Linked DNA regions of Homo sapiens: region 2 is linked to region 1. The links come from fine-mapping of genetic effects on gene expression. Tissue or cell type: left ventricle. Region 1 holds a variant in brackets; the other region holds the start of a gene. All regions are shown on one strand. Distances are between the middles of the regions.

Evidence for each region. PIP is the estimated chance that this variant, and not a neighbour inherited with it, causes the effect.
Region 2: CMSS1 starts here. The variant in region 1 is fine-mapped to the expression of CMSS1 in left ventricle (GTEx, PIP 0.99).

The regions. Positions count from the first base shown.
Region 1 is chr3:99,968,562-99,976,669 of GRCh38, reverse strand. The region is part of intron 1 of CMSS1 (cms1 ribosomal small subunit homolog); the gene reads right to left. The region is part of intron 1 of FILIP1L (filamin A interacting protein 1 like); the gene reads left to right. All of the region lies in intron 1 of LOC105374010 (a long non-coding RNA gene), which reads right to left. Among named protein-coding and RNA genes, the nearest start is that of MIR3921, 8.2 kb to the right of the region's middle. The variant G/A (reference allele first, on the strand shown) is at 3,992.
Region 2 is chr3:99,813,184-99,821,291 of GRCh38, reverse strand. It overlaps CMSS1 (cms1 ribosomal small subunit homolog), which reads right to left and starts at 3,430. Exons shown (of 10, transcript NM_032359.4): 1 at 3,249-3,430. The coding sequence starts at 3,312. HP09053 (a long non-coding RNA gene) reads left to right here. Exons shown (of 3, transcript NR_110821.1): 2 at 2,318-2,372; 3 at 2,820-4,660. LOC105374010 (a long non-coding RNA gene) reads right to left here and starts at 3,430. Exons shown (of 5, transcript NR_189163.1): 1 at 3,249-3,430. RefSeq lists enhancers at 3,164-3,473, 2,705-3,579 and a silencer at 2,995-3,749.

The sequences.
Region 1 (8,108 bases):
AAATCTTGAAGGTAAACAGTTTAAAAAAAAGATGCATATGCAGAGGAACAAAGATAAAAATTATGGCAAACTTCTTGCTGCAAATCATGCAAGCCACGAGAAAATAAAGTGGTATCTTCAATGTGGTGAAAGAAAAACCACTGGACTAGACTGCCAGTTACTGAAGTAACATGCAGGTCCACCATGGGTCCTACTAGTAGTAGTTTGGCTGCAATTCTCTTGGGGGGTTACTGTTTCTAAGTTCATGATATCTATGAATTTCTTTTGGACACAGTTTAATAACTTACTTACAACATCCAATAAAAATAGACATCCCTATCCAATTTTATTCTTTATGTATGAATTCTATATAATTATTTGGTTATAAGCAGGAACGCGTAGCATATGGGCCACAGTATCTTTTTACTCTCCTCAAGTAGACTAATAGCAGCATACACTATATGGACTTACTATGTTCCACCTTCTAAGTGCTTTATATCTATTAAAAGAGACACTGGGCCAGGTGCGGTGGCTTATGAGTACTTTGGGAGGCTGAGGCGGGCGAACCACCTGAGGTCAAAAGTTCGAGACCAGCCTGGAAAACATGGCGAAACCTCGTCTCTACTAAAAATACAAAAATTAGCTGGGCATAGTGGCACATGCCTGTAGTCCCAGCTACTTGGGAGGCTGAGGCAGGAGAATCGCTTGAACCCAGGAGGCGGAGGTTGCAGTGAGCCAAGATGGTGCCACTGCACTCCAGCCTGGACAACAGAGCGTGACTCTAACAACAACAACAAAAAGAGACATTTTATTACTGTTTGCTTGCTAGCCCAAAGAAAATATGCAATAATGGATGCTGTTGATTGTTCTAAACTTTCCTTCTACAACTCAACATATACACGACTTTTCAATTTGAGTAAGAATGTCACTATTAGAATGACCTTGATATGAGTATATACTCAGGACTTTGCTGAGATGTCCCTTTCCTAGACCAGTCTAAAACAGAACGCTCTCTTCCTCTGTGTTTCTCAGTTCTGTTGTTTACCCTAGTTTCTCTTTTTCATAGCACTTATTTCCACATGAAGTATCAATTTTTTTTTTTTTTGAGACGGAGTCTCATTTGCAGGCTGGAGTGCAATGGTGTGACCTCGGCTCACTGCAACGTCTGCCTCCCGGGTTCAAGCAATTCTCCTGCCTCAGCCTCCCGAGTAGCTGGGATTACAGGCGCCCGCCACCATACTCAGCTAATTTTTGTATTTTTAGCAGAGACAGAGTTTCACCATGTTGGTCAAGCTGGTCTTGAACTCCTTGAATTCACTGCCTGTCTGTTGTCAGTCTCCTGCACTAGAACATTTGACCATTGGAACTGTGTCTCTCCTGGTCATTGCTATATCCACAGCACTTACAACAGTTCCTCGAACTAGAAGGAGTTTAGTATGTATTTGTTGAATGGATGCATGAATGAAGGATGAAGTAATATGTGAACAAATAGAAATTCCTTTCACCTGAGGAATCTGGTAGATTGGAGCGGGGAGGAACAGAAGCAGGTGGAAGTTGAATGCCTGCTAGGTGAAAGGTACTTCACTGGGCTTAATCTAGATAATCTAAGATGCTCAGTATAGTTCCTGGAACATTAGCAGTCACTCAGAGTTATTAACTGTAATTAATGACTGTTGATCTTTTGTCATAAATGTGTCTTAATGAACTTGTGAAAATGGTATTATTTTCTAGCTTTGCACATTCAAAAAGATCAAATAACACGCCCAGGTTTACAGAGTTTGGACTGAATCCACCTGGTATGGCAAACACAAGAGCCCATGCCAAGGGGTAGGAAAGAGAATATGGAAATGTTCATCTCCTAAGGACTAAATTATTATCTTTATTTGAATATAAGTAAATGAATTTTAACTACATGTCATCAAACAACAGGTTTTTTCCACTCCAAACATGAGTTTTTGTTGTTGTTGTTGTTGTTGTTGTTTTGAGATGGAGTTTCGCTCTTGTTACTCAGGCTGGAGTGCAATGGCATGACCTTGGCTCATCACAACCTCCGCCTCCTGGGTTCAAGTGATTCTCCTGCCTCAGCCTCCCGAGTAGCTGGGATTACAGGCACACACCACCACCCGGCTAATTTTGTATTTTTAGTAGAGACGGGGTTTCTCCATGTTGGTCAGGCTGGTCTTGAACTCCTGACCTCAGGTGATCCACCTGCCTCGGCCTCCCAAAGTGCTGTGATTACAGGCGTGAGCCACTGCGCCCAGCCCAAATAATGAGTTTTTATTCCTGCTTTCTAAGTTTTTTGACCTGATAGTGACAGTCAACAAGGTAAGAAATGGGCTTTACTAAACTTACAAAGAAAAATCCTGTTGTGATCCCTTCTAAAAACTGCAGGTCCAAACCATAATAAATCAACCCGTGCTTGAAAGCACGAACTGTATATACTGGCACCCTATTCAGCTAAGATAAAAACGACAAGTCCTTCAATGATAAATTGTCCTCTCCATGTTATCCAATGGAAATACTCATATTGTCCAATACCTACAAGCAATTAGAAGGATTTAGTTTAACTTTCAAATTAAAAGACCATTAAAAAGAAACATAGTTCCCCAGTCTGCCTCTGAAAAATATTCAGAAAACCTTCTTGTTCTTAAACTTGGAAGGAATTGGTACTTAGTCTCAGATTTCCTTTTATCACACAGCAATTCAGCCAGCTATTTGGAACTGTGGGTTACAGGAAACAGTGGGATAAAACAGAAAACAATGCAAGATCTTTGAAAAGTTATTTATCAATTATATATTGTCTATCAAGAACACCTAAAACTTAGAGCAACCATCCCTCCACCCACCACCAACAACAAACACCAGGCCTAGGAATAGAGGTATTTAACATCTAACATGATACCTGCATCCCAATCTCTGCCTTCATTATAAAGCTACCCAAACTGGGGGAAAAAAGTGAGCTTAAATAGGTTTTTGAGTGCAGATCCATTTATTTTTCATCAAGTTTGAAGTGTGTTTATTATTCTTCTTACAGAAGTGGTTTTCCTCCTCAATCTATTTACTTACCTATAGGATGTGAGTATAAATTCTATAAGATCTGAAGGGAGGATGTTGATAACTTTCATGAAATAAAGCAACATTAGTTTTCTACCAATAAAACCTGGCAATAAAGCTTAAACTTTCAAAATAAGGAAAAAAAAGACAGAGGAATTTTCATATGTATTTATAACTGCATATTTTAGATTTCTATTTTATATGAATATGTGGTTTGATGTTTAGAAGAGGATTGAATTAATGATCATGAGACAAGAGTCACATAATTAAGGCATTAAAACATACCAGTTTTTGCAATTTTGCATACACACACAGAAAATCAGTGTTCTTATAACATGTATTCTCAAATGAATATTTAAAATTTGTTAACATCCACTAATGAGATCACAAGAAGAGAAAAAAAATTTTTATTCATTTTGTTTATGATGTTTCTATATAATGCTCCTAGTTTTTCAGAGAATTCACTGAGTTTTAAAGCAGATCATAAAATCTAAACCTTGGCTTTTATTATTCAGGTGGCCTCATTTTGCCCTTCATCTTTTTTAATAATTGTCATTCCATCCATTGTTCCTATAGTTCTGCACCTAATTTTGTGAACAGATAAAAGGGGAGCTTTTAGTGGTTTCTGTCCCAAATTCTCTGGCCTATTTCTGCTCTCAGCTTTTATTGCCAAAGGTGTGAAGATCAAAAGATGCTCTTTGCTGATGTGTTTACTTCCTTGTAACAAACCCTCTCACAACAAAGGAGTTCATTATTTACATCTAACATGAAAGAAAAAGTTCCAAAGCCAAAGGCCTGCATCAGACAGATGCCAAGTGATGGAATTTTCTTGCCTCACACTTATGGAAGTTAACATCATTAACACCCAGTTAATCTAAATGTCTTCAAGAGCAAAAAACATATCTTAGGGTAGGGGTAAAGCTCTGGCTTTCCCATGCAGTTCCTTGGCTTTGCCCAT[G/A]CCTTCAATCTTTCCCAACAGGGTGGTGACATGGGCTCATTTCATAAGCACAGAAAGCTCTCGCGACAGCCCATGGAAACATGAACCGTTATTTACTCTGGAAAGAATGACTGGGAGCAGCTGTGCCCAGCAGCAGACAGCACTAGAGGCAGAAAATGAGGCCGTGTCACCAATCTGTTATTATTATAATAACTAATGGAGAGAAATAAAATGGATTACCAGCACTTACTCAAATGGGGACGGGGACGTTTCCGATGCTGCTGCAAGACAGAGGCTTCTCACGGTTTATGATATCATCAGACTTCTTAATGAATTTACAGTCTAGTAATCCTGCCATGGCATTAGTTTTCCACATGCAAATCCCTGGCATCTAAGTCAATTCGGCAAATGAACAAAACTAGGGTACTCTATTGGGTCAAGTTTATTTCAACCTAAGGGAAAGAGATGACTAGCTTTCTTCCTATTCCCTTATCAAATTTATTAAGCCCATAAAAAGACTGGTTTGAATGACATCTTTCCCCACACTTTGCATATCAGTCTATATTTTTATATGTCTGCAATATCACTACCTTATATCTGTCAGAACCAGGTTCCTCTCAATAATATTCGTACTGATTCACTTAACTGCTTAGTCAAACTATATTATAGATACTTAACCATCTTATCCATTTGCTGACTATACTCCATGTCAGTGTGCTAATTTTATGACTAATCCATGTTTCCCAACAAGACTACATATATCTAGGTCAGCAACCAGGTTTACATAATCCTACCTGTACCAAATCCTACCAAAAGAGTATATAGGTGCTTTTTAGAATGATCTATATCCAGAGGCCCCAACGTCATTATTCATTCATTCATTCAAGCTAGGAACCGACTCTGTTCTCTTTTATGGGAATGGTGTTGCAGGGAGAGGACTCCTTTCAGAAGTTTGAGGTTCCGTGTGTATCCTAGACCCTACCATACAGACTCCTGTGAGTCCACAGTGTGAGGTCCTGATGAAAGCAGGTCTAAAGCCACAGTTCACTCAGGTCTCTGTCCCTATACTCTGGTACCAACTTAGATCAGGGAGTGGCTACAAGACAAAAGCTGATGGAGGAAGTGGGAATTTTGGAAGTGAGGCTTAGAGAGGTTAAGCAATACTAACATATTTTCATCTGCATCTCCTGTGAGACCTCATTCCTGAGTCCCATACCAGTATTTCTACCCAGATTCTACAGACATCTCATATTCAACATGTAGAAAAGAGGACTCCTCATCTCTCCTTTCAAATGGACTTCTTTCCTTGTGTGGTGATCTCACTTATGGGTTCCAGCATCCCATATTCTCTTTTTTTTTTTTTTTTGAGATGGGCTCTGTCACCCAGGCTGGTGGGCAGTGGCACGATCTTGGCTCACTGCAAGCTCCGCGCCCCGGGTTCACGCCATTCTCCTGCCTCAGCCTCCCGAGTAGCTGGGACTACAGGCATCTGCCACCAGGCCCGGCTAATTATTTTTTGTATTTTTAGTAGAGACGGGGTTTCACCATGTTAGCCAGGATGGTCTCGATCTCCTGACCTAGTGATCCGCCCGCCTTGGCCTCCCAAAGTGCTGGGATTACAGGCGTGAGCCACCACGCCCAGCCCCCATATTCTCTTAAGAGACACCAAAACCTGCCAATCCTTGCTGTTAAATATCTTGTGAATACAGCCCCTCCTCTTCAATCACACAGGTAGGAGCACTGCCAAGCCCTATTCCTTCACATGAATGACTGCAACAGCTTCCTAACCCATCTTCCCACCTCTAGTCTTTTTCCCTTTAATTGCATCCACACCAACATTTATCTATAATATCCTCACAACATTTTGCTTCTTAAAATCTTTCTGTGGCTGGCTGTAGCAGATAGTATAATGTTTAAGGTCTTTAGAATGGTAAAAAGTCCTTTGAGGTCTATCGTAGCACGCTCTCTTAAGTACTCTACCTCTCTCCCAGCCCAGTTCATATCCCATATACAGAATGTCTTGTCATTTACTGAATGGTTTTCCTTGCTCTTTTTAAACTCTTGTGACCCTGTACATGCAAGGTCTAGAACTATTTTCCTACTTATCTACTAGTAAACTACAAGGAAAGCAGGGATATGCTAGGTTTCAGTTAGGCAAAATGTAGAGAAAGTGTTCTGCAATTAGGTAGAAGTAGTTTGGGAGTGAAAGCGAACACAAATAGGGTGGGGAAGCACAGAGTATGTGAGAATGAGACTTCAAAACTGACTAGTGAACCACATTCATTTCCTTTACAGCATTTATCTCAGTTATTACATGCTTAAGAGGAGTTTGGTCTCATCCACCTCACACACCAGAAGGCCTGAAGGGCAGTGAGGGTAAGGTGGGCATTCCCTATTCAGAGTGATTGCAGCCTCTAAAGCCAGACTGCCTGGGTCTGAAACTGAGCTCCAAAACTTATCAGATGACTTTGGGCAAATTACTTATTATTTCTATGCCTTCACTTTCTCAGCTGCAAAATGATAACCCATTTCAGAAGGTAGTTGTGAGAATGAATGATTTAATGCACGCAAAGTATGAGGTTGAACCATATGAAATTACTATTTTTATATGTCAAAATACTCAAATATCAACAAGTTTATATGGCTTATCCAAATTTTAAGCCAATGCCTAACTGATTATTCCTTTTTATAATGCTTCTAAACCATTACTCCCTAATGCCTCTGATGTAACAGCCTCATTTGTTGAATTTCATATTATCCAATTATCTTTTCTCATTGATGTCCCCCTGCTAATATCCTGGTCCCTCCATAACACTTATTCATGACTAGGGCACTTGGCAACAATCTTTAACATACCCTTTGTGACAATGAGTGACTTCAGTATCCATCTAGACAAGCCATCCAATAAACTATAAATTCCTCACCTTCTTCATCTCCATGGTCACAGATTTCCAAGGTCAAACCCTGCAACTAATTATCTAGTGGGGCTGCTTCCTATCCATTATGTGAAGATGACCACAATCTCTGATCCTTCCAGGCTCCCCGTGCCTTTGCCCTTACTACCTCTGCTCTCCAATCTCTGGAAAACCATAGTTCCTTGACCTCTTTCCTGGCCTCACTGCTTTACCCAGTTGGGATAGCACGGCTCATTACTTCAACCATTCTTTCACTAATATCTTTAGAATCAATTCAAACGTAGACTTCTGTATTTCTGTGACCAATCTGTTGAGCTCAGCTGGAAAAAAAAGTCAGCTTTCAGATTGACGCAACTATATAAATCTGCAGTCCTCAATCTCAAATAGGCCATCAACGTGGCTCAACCTCCTACTCATTCTTGCTTAGCTTGCTCTTATTTTACTAAGCAATGTTACCAAACTGTCATATTGCTCAAGAGCCCAAACAAGGCTACATCCTTCTCTGCAGATGACATCATTTTCTACTTCAATAAGAGAATTATACATACATTATCCCAATATTGTTCCCCTCCCCTTCTTAGATATGCCTGGACCTGTCCTTGTGCACTTTCTTTCAATGACAGGATGAGGTATTCTTACTCCAGGTCAAGATCCTGCCCTGCCCTCCACACATGGCCCCCCTTTTCAGCACTCCCAGGACCGAGCTCCATTAATTATCCCCTTTACTTCCTAAATCTTTAAATTCTCAGTGCCTATTTACTCTTTCCTCTAAGCCCAGAAACCCATTTAAATCTTTTATCAAATGAATTTTTTTTTCTTTTTGCTTCTTGAACCTGGGTTGCACCCCAGAAACCATACCCTTCCTTCTCTTCTAAGGCAAGTGACTTGAAAGAGAGGTTTGTGCTAACCCTTCTCAACTTTCTTACCCTACCCATTTACTTTAAAACAAGACACAATGTCATTCTGCCCTGGCCACTGGACTGAAACTTCTCTGATGAGACACCAGTGAACTCCATAATGCCACACCTGAGGAAAATGTATCAATTCTCTCCTCTCATTTTTTCTTATTTCTCTGTTTTTTCCTTTCCAGTCTCCCTCATGGGTTCCTTGTCTTTTGTTTGCTTCTTAAATGTCTGTATTACTCAAGGCTTCACCCATGGTAATTTGTTCATTCTATATATTCTCCTTGTGCAATTTCATTTGCTCTTGATTTTAAACACCAC
Region 2 (8,108 bases), 160 kb after region 1:
ATACTCTGTAGCAGGTAACACGCATACACACATATATTTATTCTGCCAACATCCACCAAACACCAATTAAGTGCCAGGTCCCATGTTGAGCTCCAGTGCAATGTAGAACTCTAGCACAAAAATGACAGGTTTTAAAGAGCCATGAAAACTTTGTTACATACCACATCTAAGAAGACATGATAACAGCCAAAAAATAGTACAGTTCCTTAGACAGACAACAAACAGATAGGCACATTAGATAGATGTTATAAACCATGTACAACCAACAAGTATTTGTAAGTGACTGAAATCTTCCACTGCCTTGCTACCATGGATGTCAAGTGGGAACAGATTATAGCAAAAATGTTTATTTTTATAGGCAGGTAGCATAATCCACAACAGGAATAAAAGCACCAATACAACTATCTTTCCTTTCTCTGATTTAACATATTATTTCTCCTTCAACTTTCAAAACAAAACATAATTCACATACTTTAGGCTGAAACAACAATTGAATACATTTGACATCCCTATCAAATAACTTAAGTAAAGACTTCAAGAAGGCAGCCAGGTAAGTAAGCCTTGTGCTCTAGGATCAAGGCTAGATCCCATCAACAAAAGAAGAATCAGGAAATCTGTGGTTCAGCTGTGATTTCTTTTGAATTAGAAACGCTGTACAGATTACAATTAGGCAAATTGCCAGTGAATAATCAAGGATATTTCAAATAAAGGCATATACTTACTTTGCTTAAGAGCAGCGAACAAAGCAAAGGCCTCTGATAAATTTAATGCCAGCAATTTTCAAAGCTTAGTCTTGGCCGGGTGCGGTGATTCACACCTGTAATCCCAGCACTTTGGGAGGCCAAGGCGAGCAGATCACTTCAGGTCAGGAGCTCAAGACCAGCCTGGCCAACATGGTGAAACCCCATCTCTACTAAAAATACAAAAATTAGCTGGGGGTGGTGGCAGGCTCCTGTAATCCCAACTACTCGGGAGGCTGAGGCAGGAGAATCGCTTGAACCCAGGAGGTGGAGGTTGCAGTGAACTGAGATCGCACCACTGTACTCCAGACTGGGGGACAAGAGTGAGACTTCGTCTCAAAAAAAAAAAAAGGGTTAGTCTTATGGCTAGAAGGAATGTAAGAAGTAGAGCAATCTTAGGCACTCCAACACACTGTCTTCATGAGAATTCTGGCAACTTAGATGAAGGAGGCTGTAGCGATTTAAAGTTTTACTAGATTCAGTGTTTAAAACTGTTGGGGGCCAGGCACGGTGGCTCACGCCTGTAATCCCAGCACTTTGGGAGGCCGAGGTGGGCAGATCACGAGGTCAAGAGATCAAGACCAGCCTGGCCAACATGGTGAAACCCCGTCTCTACTAAAAATACAAAAATTAGCTGGGTGTGGTGGCGGGCACCTGTAATCCCAGTTACTTGGGAGGCTGAGGCAGGAGAATCGCTTGAACCCAGGAGGCAGAGGTTGCAGTGAGCCGAGATCGTGCCACTGCACTCCAGCCTGGGCGACAGAGGGAGACTCCGTGTCAAAAAAAAAAAAAAAGAAAAAAAAAACTGTTGGTTGGTAAAACCCTAAAAAAGATGATCTTTAAGGGCTCTTTACAGATTATGATACAAAGGCCCAGAGAAGTCACAAAGTAGTAGCGGGAAAAGCGTGACTTTCAAAATCAATCACACTTGACTAAACTCTTCCCAGACCTCTTCTTCAATGTGTGTTCCTAAGAACACGACTTAACTTTTTTCTGTTTCTTCACCTATACAAATGAAGAGAATACTTACCTTTTCGGGATGTTATGAAAGTTAAATCAATTCATATTTATGAAGACATTTGTCACATAATAGATACTCAATACATGTTGACTGCCTTTCTTCCAACGGATGAATAACTTGAAAGTCACACAGCTAGTGAGGACTAGAACCAAGAATTGGGATCCCCTTCACCACTCAAACAGAATTCAACTATTTCTTAAATGGCCTCTGTTCATCTTCAATCATATCATAAAATAGAGCTTTTTAACACCTGAGTTGGGAGGGGTAGTTATTAAAGTAAATGTGGAACACCACAGGGCTGCAAAAGAGTCAGGAAGTTTAATCAAGGAAATGTTGTATTGGCTACCTTTCTAAAAATGACATCTGCTTAGTTTGTACCTGAAGGCTTGACCTTCCGGAAACAATGCAACAAATGAAGTTGGTTATTTTTAATGGATATTTCACAACTAGTATTTCAAGATTGTTTGCAGCAAATAGGTATCAAGTGTCTAACATGTGCAGGGCCCTGTGGATGACAGAAGTATGAATCTGACTTTGGCCCTGTCTTCTCTTGTAGAGAAAAGAGGCAGACCTTGAGGAGTGATAAAAACCAACCAACCAATAATTGCATGGTAGGTGTGATGGAACTTAAAAAGTTCAAGGCTAGCCTGACATGGGGGGTCACTTAACGCTACTCTACTTGGGGATGAAATGCCCACTGCATCAGGAGTTGGTAAACACAGCAGAGCATAGTAGAAACTATTCAAATTGTGTTAACTGAATTCTAGTATTGTTTCTGAAAGGAGCTAGCTTTGTGAACTTGTCAAGTTACTTGACATCTTTAGGTTATGTTTCTCATCTGTAAAATAAGTGAGTTCAAAGGATGATCTCTATTTAAGCCTCCTTCCAGTTCTACTATTCCAAATTCCATGATAATGATGATGACCACAAGAAATACAGTAACTTATATTTACCACACATTATATGTCAAGCACTATGCTAAAGTGCATTACTGTACTAACTTCACTTAATCTTCACAACTTTACGAAATGGACATTATTGTTATCATTATTTTACAGATGAGGAAAAGGAGGCTAAACAGTATCAGAATACTGGAGTCGTGATTTGAATGGAGGGAGTCTGAAGCAGCAACCCCTGCTTCTGACCTCAGTCTGAATTGAAAGCAGTTCATGGGTCACCCTTAACCATCATACAAAGTTGCCTCTCTTCACAAAAACTGTCTTATCCATTCTCAAGAAATAAGGAAAAGAGAAAGCTTGTGGAAAGGATCCTTCCTGGCTGGCAGACAGATCTGAGTTAATGTCACAGCTGTCTGTTTCACGTGTTAAAGAATCTCTTGCACCATTTTCCCCGAGATGCTTGCGCGCTCCCAAGGCGGTGCACACCCCTGCTGGGCAAACACCGCGATCGCCAGAAGCGACCAGGGCTGAGGCGCACGGAAGGGCTCCGGGAGAGGCCCCGTAGGAGCGCGGGCACAGAGTGGGTACCTGGGCTGCTGCCTGCTCCAGTCGGCTGGTTCTCCCACCACTCGTCTCCGAGATCGTCTGCCATTTCAGCTCAGGTCTCGACGTGGGCAGAACATCACGGGTAGGCGACCAGCTGCGGAGAATCACGTTGTCTCAAAGCCAGGCGGCCGGCGTAGCTACACGCGGAGCTCCCGCTAGACACTGTCGCCTCCGCCCCGCGGCGATGACGTCACACCTCTGCCCCGCCTCTCCGGCAGCCGCTCCCAGACTCGTCGCAGTTTCCACACAGGCGCCGACAGGCAGAAGCAGTTTGGAAACGCAACATAAATCCCCCCAAAGCTTAAAGACAAAAAGGAACATAAGACGAAAGGGATTGTCATCGTTTTTGATAATGCATTTTAAAAAATTTTGTTTACGTGTTACGTTTCCCGATAAGATTGTGTCGAAAGTGTGAGACACCATGTGAAGACGATTTTTCTCCGCTCAGTTTCAAAGAACTTGCGCAGCGGGAGAAGACCCAAACATGTGCGTGTGTTTTCGCTTGTGCGTCAGTGTTTCAGAGTTTATGTGTTTGTACAGTTTGCTCTTAGAAAACATGCGCAAGGATCCATGACCATGAATGTCGGGCCTTTGTGGTAAATGTAGTTCTGCTATTTATGCAATATGAGTAAAGAAAATGTAATTGGCCTGGAAAGGCTCGCCCACAGAAAGACGCAAGTGGCTCGAAGACCCGCAAGTTGTTTTCCTCATACTCCCTCGGTTGTGTGTCCCACCCCCTATTTGGGAAACGAAGTAATAAGGGAGTCCATTGCTTCGTAACTATAGGTAAGAGACCCGCAGTGCCTCTTGTCTCAGTCCCAACGTGATTTGGCAGGGAGGGACTAGGAAAACCCGCTGGGCGCCAAGTGCTGGGGCTAGCTGTGAAGTAATTGTGGACGGTATTTTTCAGGACATCAAACACAGACGTAAAAATTATACAAAATGTAGTAAAAGCACGCAACGTGCCTGGTACTATGCATGGAATAGTAAGATGAGTCCATTCAGATGTTAGCCTACAGTAGTGGAAATTCAATTTGTAGGAATAAAGGGCTAGACTTCTAATAGGATACATCCTCGGAAATGACAAGACAGGGAAACTTAATCTGATGAGGCTAGGATTAGCCATATGTGGAAAATTACCCCGTGTGCACCCAACTCATAGATGTTTTATAAATGCATTACTGCCTAGACTTTGTCCGCACACTCTAAATGCCCCAAAAGGGAAGATATTATGTATAAATATGGCAAATGTAAAATAATCTATAAAGATCAAAAGTAATATGGCTTTTGTGAAGAAATGTAGATGACGAGATTTTCGTGATTAATAGATTTTTGAAAAAGATAAGAAATGCCAGTGTGGAAGAGGAGTTGCTATGGCTAATAAACATGAAAAGAATTCAGTCTGATTATTAATCTGGGAAATACAAAAAAAACACCACAGCGAGACCGTTTTTCAGGCAATAAATCACAAAATTAAGAAGTATGGGCCGGGCGCGGTGGCTCAAGCCTGTAATCCCAACGCTTTGGGAGGCCGAGGTGGGTGAATCACCTGAGGTCAAGAATTCCAGACCAGCCTGGCCAAAATGGCGAAACCCATCTCTACTAAAAATACAAAAATTAGCCGGGCATGGTGGCAGGCGCCTGTAATTCCAGCTACTTGAGAGTCTGAGGTAGGCGAATTGCTTAAACCCGGGAAGTGGAGGTTGCGGTGAGCCGAGATGGTGCCATTACACTCCAGCCTGGTTGACAAAAGCGAAACTCGGTCTCAAAAAAAAAAAAAAAAAAAAAAAAAAGAAGTCTGGCAATACTAAATTATGGAGTGTCTATGCATTAATGGGAATTGATACCTGTTTTGTACCATGAACTATGAATGGTCTTACATTATATTCCACCTCGCCTCAGCCTCCCGAGTAGCTGGGACTACAGGCACATGCCACCATTCTTGGTTATTTTGTTGTTGTTTTTGTTTTTTGTAGATATGGCGTCTCATTTTGCTGCCCAGGCTGGTCTTTAACACCTGGCTTCAAGCAGTCCTCCCACTCCAGCCTGCCAAAGTGTTGGTATTAGAGGCCTAAGCCACTGTGTCCAGCCATTTTTTACATTTTTAAAGCATTGTAAGAAACAGAACAAAACAACAACGACAACAACAAAAACGTAAAGAAAAATATGCAGCAGAGACTGTAGCCCTCATATATTTACTATTTATTACTATTCCCTCATATATTTGCTCTAACTTTACAGAAAAAAGTTTACTGACCCCAGATTATATTGAATAGCCAACCTAAGTTGTAGCATCCATTTCTGTTCTGTTTGTTCTGTTATTAGTGAATTGGTTATTAGTGAATAGGCATCCTGGTTTATAAATCAGTGTATTGTAAAACCGTACTCTCCAGTATCTGATCATATCATCTAACACAGGGAAGCTCAGGCTGAAATAACTATTAGGTCTTTTTCTGCTCCCTCTTACTGTTCAGTATCTGAATGAGTATTATTAGAGTTTAAAGGAGGAAGCATTCATTTCCCAATGGGGCGAACTGGGAGGTAGCACTTGACAATGGATGTCTGTCGGCAAAAATGGATAGGGTAAATGATAGTTCCTTGGCAGAAAGATTGCAATGTTGCTTTGAATAAGTTATTAAACTTTGCTGGGCATTTCTTTGTGAGTCTGTAAAATAAAGGGGAGCAATTTCATGATTCCTGTGGTCTCTTCCAACTCCATGCCTTAATCTTGAGTATCAGACCAAGAATTCTGGATTTTTGTCGTTGTTATTAGAGGCAAAGGACATGATGGAAGTATTGTTTTAGGAAAGCTAAATTGGTATTACTGTGCAGGATGAATAATGGATTTGAGCAGAGCTTCCCACCTGGCATGGGTGGGCTGAAGACTGACCCCTGCAGTCTTTGGAGGAAGCAGTGACCTTGGGGCAGTTGCCTCAGGTTGAGGGTATCATCATCTTTTCACTCTAGTGTTGTACAGATATTACCATTTTCTATGGATGCCATGATGTGAAAGGTTGGCAAAAACTGAATTAGTAAGAGAGCGATAAAGTTTGAAGGCTGTTTCGTGAATGCTCACCACACAATGAAAAGGTCTTAATCAGTGCAGAGGTTCTTAGTCAATAAGCCCAGCCTATAAGTGTACTTCAGGAACCATCATAATGCATTCAAACTTTTGCATCATGTAGACAATAATGGTAGTAACAATATCAACAATAGCATGTTGTATGTACCTCTCTATGCCTCTTATATCTTAATTCATTTAATCATAACTCCATGAGATACTGTGCTGGGACTAGGGTGAGGCAAGCAGAGACCTAGGATACCAGATTTAAGGAGGCAGTCACTCTCAGGCTGACACTGACACCGACCTGAGAATGCTTGTCTCACTTGAGTCCTGACGCTGGTCCCTTTACTGAAGGCCACAGCTCTAGTTCAGCAGCTCTCCTCAATTCTTTCTTCTGAGTCTAGTAACTTGCCTTTGTCTCTTCAGACTTAGGAGTGGTAACTGCTCCCCACCATTACTAGTCCTGGGGTTCTACACCACGTTTCATTTCCCTAACCTGACCTCATGTTCAGAAATACTCCCCTTACTAAATTATTTTCAGTTTTCCAGCTTAAATGGGTCATCTTTTGCATGGTAGGACCCCAACTGATAAAATCAACTGCCTACTTAGGGTTCCCCTCAAAGCAGAGCCTGTGACAAAGGCTTGGGTGCAAATAGTTTATTTGGGAGGTGATACCAGGATGCAGGAATAAAGGCAGAGAGAATGAGACAAAGAAGGAGGATTGATATTAAACTGGTTTTGATGTAGACAATGACTGGCTCTTTATCCTCTTGAAGACCCTCTGAAAAAAATAGGATATACCCCAGAATTAGCCTCACAAAGTGATACAGGAGTTAAGAAGAAATTACTTAGACACATAGTAAGGGTATGGGAGTCCTCAGTAAGGCTTTTCTTTTTAATGAAAAGCAGCCCCAAATAATTTTCTAACAAAGAGCAGCCTGCAAGCTGGGAGCTTACACGAATGAATGCTGGCAGGAACTAAGGACTAGACATGTTCAAATGGCGCCTCCGTTTTCCCTTCTCTGCCAGCCACGTGTACTGCAAGGAGCAGGCAAGATGGCACTGATCAACTGGAAAGTCCATTTGCATAATAAGATTAGGGTGGAGTGACCAGCCTTCCCCGTGTGCTATGAAAACATCATACCTGGTCGAACCAATCTGTGAGCCCTATGTAAATCAGACACCACCTCCTCAAACTGGACTAGAAAATTCGGCACTTTCCGCCACCAGCCAGTCTTTTCTGCTTGGAGACCCCTTTCTCTATATAAAGAAGAGACCTCTTTTTCTTCTCTTCTGCCTGTTAAATGTACGCTCCTAAACTCCTCGTGTGTGCCCAGGTCCTAAATTTTTCTGGTGCACAACGATGAACCCCAGGGTATACACCCCAGACAACATAGCATCTTCAAAAGGACAGAAGGCTAGGACACTTATCCACTGACTGTCATCTACCATTGAGTGAGGGTTGTTGCCAGGGTTATGAATTGGCAGATATTCCCAGGCTGTGCTGCTGTTGGAGAAAGCCCTGAGGCAGAAGAGTAGAGCAGTATACCTCAGCTCACTTGAGGTGGGATAATGACAGTGTGCCCAGAACTTTCCTCCATGGCTGAGCCAATTTCAAAATGAGCTAAGGGGCATAAAAAGCATCTGCTCCAGGTTTATACTGTTTTTCTTTCCATTTTATAGATGGTGAAACTAAGGCACAGAAAATTAAGTAACTTGCTGAGTTACTAGTAAGTGATTTCCCATCTGCCCCATGACCTTCATACACTCCCAATGT